Linked DNA regions of Homo sapiens. The protein of the gene in region 1 purifies or fractionates together with the protein of each later gene. This does not show direct contact. Each region holds a gene or a part of one and is shown in the gene's direction. Other genes may lie near its edges.

What was found.
Region 2: the proteins of GPR180 (region 1) and CCR6 purify together in Homo sapiens (co-immunoprecipitation; one large-scale study listed by IntAct). This does not show direct contact.

The regions. Positions count from the first base shown.
Region 1 is NC_000013.11:94,618,857-94,622,356, forward strand, and holds part of GPR180 (integral membrane protein GPR180 precursor), read left to right. Parts: intron 1-293; coding exon 294-474; intron 475-611; coding exon 612-661; intron 662-2,221; coding exon 2,222-2,379; intron 2,380-3,500.
Region 2 is NC_000006.12:167,136,369-167,139,641, forward strand, and holds the end of CCR6 (C-C chemokine receptor type 6), read left to right. Parts: coding exon 1-987; 3' UTR 988-2,773; downstream 2,774-3,273. UniProt on the Homo sapiens protein: Receptor for the C-C type chemokine CCL20. Binds to CCL20 and subsequently transduces a signal by increasing the intracellular calcium ion levels.

The DNA.
Region 1 (3,500 bases):
TTCAAACAAAACTGTGATTTTATGATGAGTCTTTGGGTTCCCCTGACCATTATGCTTTCTTACAGATTGACCTTAACTAGTTTGGTTTAATCTGCTTTCTTGTAGTTAAAATTTTGCCCCAAGGTACAAAATTGTTTAAGTTTTAATAATTTTTTTTCTCTTACAAAGGTGAATGCTATGACTCCAGTTAAAAAACAAGTTCTAGAAATATATTGACAGGGAGATTTGAAAGCAGCCCAATACGATAACTGGCTTTGTTTTACTGAAGCAAACTCCCTTTCTTCTCTTCACAGGGTTACATGAGTTCTTTTTCCTCCTAGTCCTAGTGTACTTTGTGATTGCTTGCATTTATGCTCAATCATTGTGGCAGGCTATTAAGAAAGGCGGACCCATGCACATGATTTTAAAGGTTCTGACAACTGCATTGCTGTTACAAGCTGGTTCAGCTTTAGCTAATTACATTCATTTCTCCAGGTAACTCAAAACCACTAAAACTGTGTTCATCATTACATCTAATTAATCCTAATTAGTCCACCAAAATTATGCTTGCTTTGATTATAAACAATTTTTTTCACATTTGTAATTTACACTACTCTTCTTCAATTCCTCAGTTACTCCAAAGATGGAATAGGGGTACCATTTATGGGAAGTTTGGCAGAATGTGAGTATCTTTCTGAGCATTTTTTAAAAAGCTTTTACACTCGCTATCTGCTTTTTTTTTATTTCTTGTCATAGTATAAATTTTCTGTCGAAAATTGTTTAGAAATCAGCTTGACTGAGAACAGGATTACAGTTTAAGTTCCCATATGTCTTACTTAGTTTCTTCTTAATAATAGGTAATGTGTACAGCTCCTCGTTGTTTTTTTGTTTGTTTGTTTGAGACAGGGTTCTTACTCCGTAGCCCAGGCTGGAGTGCAGTGGCACAGTCACGGCTCACTGCAGCCTCAAACTCCTAGGCTCAGGTGATCCTCCTGCCTCAGGCCTTCCCAGTAGCTGGGATTACAGGCACATACCATCATGCCTGGCTGATTTTTAAATTTCCTTTTCTGTAGATGGGGTCTCACTATGTTGCCCAGGCTGGCCTTATACTCTTGGGCTTGAGGGATCCACCCACCCTGGCCTCCCAAAGTCCTGGAATTACAGGCATGAGTCTCCACACTCTGCCTTTTCATTGTTTTTAGGTATATTTATATACATTCTCTCATCTTATCCTCAATAGAAAAGGGGTCTGCATATCCTTATTTTGCAGATAAAGGATCTGGGCTCAGTGATGTGAAACATACTTCCACATGTCAGTCAGCTATTGAGTGGTAGAGACTAGACTCAGACCTAAATTTTCTTACCTCAAAGCTGAAGTTTTTCTTCCTATTATAATTCCACTCTCTGTTATAACTGACTCTTTTCTATTTCTGACCCAAAGCCTAAAACTCACATCAAAATATGCTGTGAAGAAAAGTGATAAGTTTTCTTAAAAATCATTAAATGCTACCTCATAAAATAAATATATATATGAAACTTGAAGCATTTATAGATTTCTGTTGTTTTCTTGTAGTGTTAACCTGGATACAGGTGGTTTTGATACATCTTTTCTGTTTGAAGTAGCAGGCTTCCCCTGCAGTGTAGGTGATGGCCACCTGGTGGCACATCACACTAATGCATGGAGCTTCTCATTTGTCTTCAGGATTCTGAAAGTAAAGCCAATGTTTGGATGTTATGGGAGCTATGCATTTCATTGTATTGTTTCTTGTTAATAGTTTTAGAAAATACTCTTCACATTATAGTTCAGCCATCAAAAAAAATTCACCCAGAAATGAAGGTACTAGTATTCTCCATATTGCAGAAATCGTATTTAGAATTTGCTTTAATAAGCAGTGAGTTATAGAGAACAGGATTATGTAGTTAGAAAAGCTAAGAAAAATGGGAAACGAAAAGAGTTAAGGTTGGACTTAATGGACATATGGTATGGGCATATATATGTATTTTTAAATAGTATTGCTGCTGTTTTAACTATTTTAATAAATATATTACAAAATTTATGGCAATTTTTAAATCTTTAGAATTATTACCTGCGAATATCTCTTAATGAATTTCGTTAGCTTCTCTTTGAAAATGGCTTTTTGTGGTTTTTCTTAAAAAAAAAAAAAGATGTTCTCAATGCAAAAAGCACTAAATTTTTTATATTGTGAAAACTTGGTTGACGTTGGTTTTCATGTCCCATTAGTTTTTGACATCGCTTCCCAAATTCAGATGTTATACTTACTTTTGAGTCTATGCATGGGTTGGACAATAGTCAGAATGAAGAAGTCTCAAAGCAGACCTCTCCAGTGGGATTCTACGCCTGCATCCACTGGCATTGCAGTATTCATTGTCATGACACAGGTGGGTATTGATACTCAGTGTTTCTGCTTAGTAATCCTCAGAAATGCAAACTTGAGCATACCTCATTTCAGAATTGAAACCTGGGACCCATAAGGAATTTGTGTCATTTTTTTTTTCTTGAAATTTCTGAGCTTCTACAATTTGTGTCATTTAAAGTATGAATTTAAAGAGTGTTAGATCAAATAATCTTAATTATCTGGATGCTACTATATGTAGACTGCAGAATTTAATTATAATTTACCTGAATTTGAGCTCCTATCAGCTTATTTAAGCACAGTATGTTTAATACTAGGTTAGAGTCTTATTTCCTACTTAATAATAGCTTTCTTTCATATTTCTCTAGCACATGGTAAGTACTTAACACTGAATGAGTGATTCCATGAATTTGAGATTTATCCATTGTCAAGAATCTTTAGGATTGGCTGCTTTGTACGTAAAAGAATTCAGGTGATTATCTAAGATTAATTAAAGGGCAAAATATAGACTAAAAAAGAATGGGATCTTGTTTTTGAAAGCAAATGTAAAAACAAAACTAGTCTTTTATAAAGGTCCTGCATGCCTTTTTTTTTATTTTCCTCTATATTAATAGTATTGACATTCTAAGATACCCATATGCCTATGTTCAATGGATTTGTAAAAATTAAGAAGAAAGGTTATAAAGAAAAAAATTTGTACTGAGTTTTTGATGAGCATTAGCTATAGATGAAAATGAATTATATACTTAGGCTCTGTAGAGGACATTATAATGTAAGTTTAATGCATTAAATAAATTGAAAAATGTATTAATGAAGGATGGGGTCAGTGCTTTATTCATCTTTCTATCCCTAGTATTTAATATAGTAGGTTTTGAGTGGAATAGGAGTATTGAATTTACATGAATGATTTGAGAGAGACCATATCACAGGTGGTGATATTTAGAAAGGAGGTAGTGCCAGGAAAGGGGATGATGAGAAATAATTGAATTAGAAGAATTGATTAAAATAAGGTTGAGATTCTACCAACTTAATGTTTTTGAGCCAGGACTTATGGAGAGTAGTGTCAATGTCAGGTTAAATTCTCACTTTTTATTTCTTTTTAAAAATTTCATTTTTATTATTTCATTGTAATTTTAATTTATTGTC
Region 2 (3,273 bases), on another chromosome or scaffold:
CTATTTGTACCGATTGCCTACTCCTTGATCTGTGTCTTTGGCCTCCTGGGGAATATTCTGGTGGTGATCACCTTTGCTTTTTATAAGAAGGCCAGGTCTATGACAGACGTCTATCTCTTGAACATGGCCATTGCAGACATCCTCTTTGTTCTTACTCTCCCATTCTGGGCAGTGAGTCATGCCACCGGTGCGTGGGTTTTCAGCAATGCCACGTGCAAGTTGCTAAAAGGCATCTATGCCATCAACTTTAACTGCGGGATGCTGCTCCTGACTTGCATTAGCATGGACCGGTACATCGCCATTGTACAGGCGACTAAGTCATTCCGGCTCCGATCCAGAACACTACCGCGCAGCAAAATCATCTGCCTTGTTGTGTGGGGGCTGTCAGTCATCATCTCCAGCTCAACTTTTGTCTTCAACCAAAAATACAACACCCAAGGCAGCGATGTCTGTGAACCCAAGTACCAGACTGTCTCGGAGCCCATCAGGTGGAAGCTGCTGATGTTGGGGCTTGAGCTACTCTTTGGTTTCTTTATCCCTTTGATGTTCATGATATTTTGTTACACGTTCATTGTCAAAACCTTGGTGCAAGCTCAGAATTCTAAAAGGCACAAAGCCATCCGTGTAATCATAGCTGTGGTGCTTGTGTTTCTGGCTTGTCAGATTCCTCATAACATGGTCCTGCTTGTGACGGCTGCAAATTTGGGTAAAATGAACCGATCCTGCCAGAGCGAAAAGCTAATTGGCTATACGAAAACTGTCACAGAAGTCCTGGCTTTCCTGCACTGCTGCCTGAACCCTGTGCTCTACGCTTTTATTGGGCAGAAGTTCAGAAACTACTTTCTGAAGATCTTGAAGGACCTGTGGTGTGTGAGAAGGAAGTACAAGTCCTCAGGCTTCTCCTGTGCCGGGAGGTACTCAGAAAACATTTCTCGGCAGACCAGTGAGACCGCAGATAACGACAATGCGTCGTCCTTCACTATGTGATAGAAAGCTGAGTCTCCCTAAGGCATGTGTGAAACATACTCATAGATGTTATGCAAAAAAAAGTCTATGGCCAGGTATGCATGGAAAATGTGGGAATTAAGCAAAATCAAGCAAGCCTCTCTCCTGCGGGACTTAACGTGCTCATGGGCTGTGTGATCTCTTCAGGGTGGGGTGGTCTCTGATAGGTAGCATTTTCCAGCACTTTGCAAGGAATGTTTTGTAGCTCTAGGGTATATATCCGCCTGGCATTTCACAAAACAGCCTTTGGGAAATGCTGAATTAAAGTGAATTGTTGACAAATGTAAACATTTTCAGAAATATTCATGAAGCGGTCACAGATCACAGTGTCTTTTGGTTACAGCACAAAATGATGGCAGTGGTTTGAAAAACTAAAACAGAAAAAAAAATGGAAGCCAACACATCACTCATTTTAGGCAAATGTTTAAACATTTTTATCTATCAGAATGTTTATTGTTGCTGGTTATAAGCAGCAGGATTGGCCGGCTAGTGTTTCCTCTCATTTCCCTTTGATACAGTCAACAAGCCTGACCCTGTAAAATGGAGGTGGAAAGACAAGCTCAAGTGTTCACAACCTGGAAGTGCTTCGGGAAGAAGGGGACAATGGCAGAACAGGTGTTGGTGACAATTGTCACCAATTGGATAAAGCAGCTCAGGTTGTAGTGGGCCATTAGGAAACTGTCGGTTTGCTTTGATTTCCCTGGGAGCTGTTCTCTGTCGTGAGTGTCTCTTGTCTAAACGTCCATTAAGCTGAGAGTGCTATGAAGACAGGATCTAGAATAATCTTGCTCACAGCTGTGCTCTGAGTGCCTAGCGGAGTTCCAGCAAACAAAATGGACTCAAGAGAGATTTGATTAATGAATCGTAATGAAGTTGGGGTTTATTGTACAGTTTAAAATGTTAGATGTTTTTAATTTTTTAAATAAATGGAATACTTTTTTTTTTTTTTTAAAGAAAGCAACTTTACTGAGACAATGTAGAAAGAAGTTTTGTTCCGTTTCTTTAATGTGGTTGAAGAGCAATGTGTGGCTGAAGACTTTTGTTATGAGGAGCTGCAGATTAGCTAGGGGACAGCTGGAATTATGCTGGCTTCTGATAATTATTTTAAAGGGGTCTGAAATTTGTGATGGAATCAGATTTTAACAGCTCTCTTCAATGACATAGAAAGTTCATGGAACTCATGTTTTTAAAGGGCTATGTAAATATATGAACATTAGAAAAATAGCAACTTGTGTTACAAAAATACAAACACATGTTAGGAAGGTACTGTCATGGGCTAGGCATGGTGGCTCACACCTGTAATCCCAGCATTTTGGGAAGCTAAGATGGGTGGATCACTTGAGGTCAGGAGTTTGAGACCAGCCTGGCCAACATGGCGAAACCCCTCTCTACTAAAAATACAAAAATTTGCCAGGCGTGGTGGCGGGTGCCTGTAATCCCAGCTACTTGGGAGGCTGAGGCAAGAGAATCGCTTGAACCCAGGAGGCAGAGGTTGCAGTGAGCCGAGATCGTGCCATTGCACTCCAGCCTGGGTGACAAAGCGAGACTCCATCTCAAAAAAAAAAAAAAAAAAAAAGGAAAGAACTGTCATGTAAACATACCAACATGTTTAAACCTGACAATGGTGTTATTTGAAACTTTATATTGTTCTTGTAAGCTTTAACTATATCTCTCTTTAAAATGCAAAATAATGTCTTAAGATTCAAAGTCTGTATTTTTAAAGCATGGCTTTGGCTTTGCAAAATAAAAAATGTGTTTTGTACATGAAGTAGGAATCGTATTTCAGCTTCAAGGTTCAGATTGAGGGGCCCACTGTTTGGAGAGGATGGTATTCAGGCTTTCTCATGTCCTTCAAATCTGTTAGCGTTTGACTCTAGAAATCAAAGCAAAGGAGTGGTTACCCAGACACTTCTTTTGGTGTGATCAATGCGCTGATGTGATCTATGAAGATGATTCATGCTTGAAAACTAGCACAGAAACATCTTGCTTATTTGCCAAAGCTGGGAGATGAGCTTCTCTGCATAATTTAAATGTTCAGATAAATGAAGCTGACTTATTTAAGCAATAACCTTTTAAACATTTTAGCTAAGATGTATAAAAATGTTTCCAAAATATACCACATACTTTATTTCTTCTTAAATGTAGTACATTAGGTTACATCATTTTTCTTGCTGTCTTGGGCATCAAAACAGGTGCCATGGTAACCTGACACTCTCAGGAGACATTAAGATAGAAGGGGCTGTTCTTCAGTGGTTCCCATTGATTCTC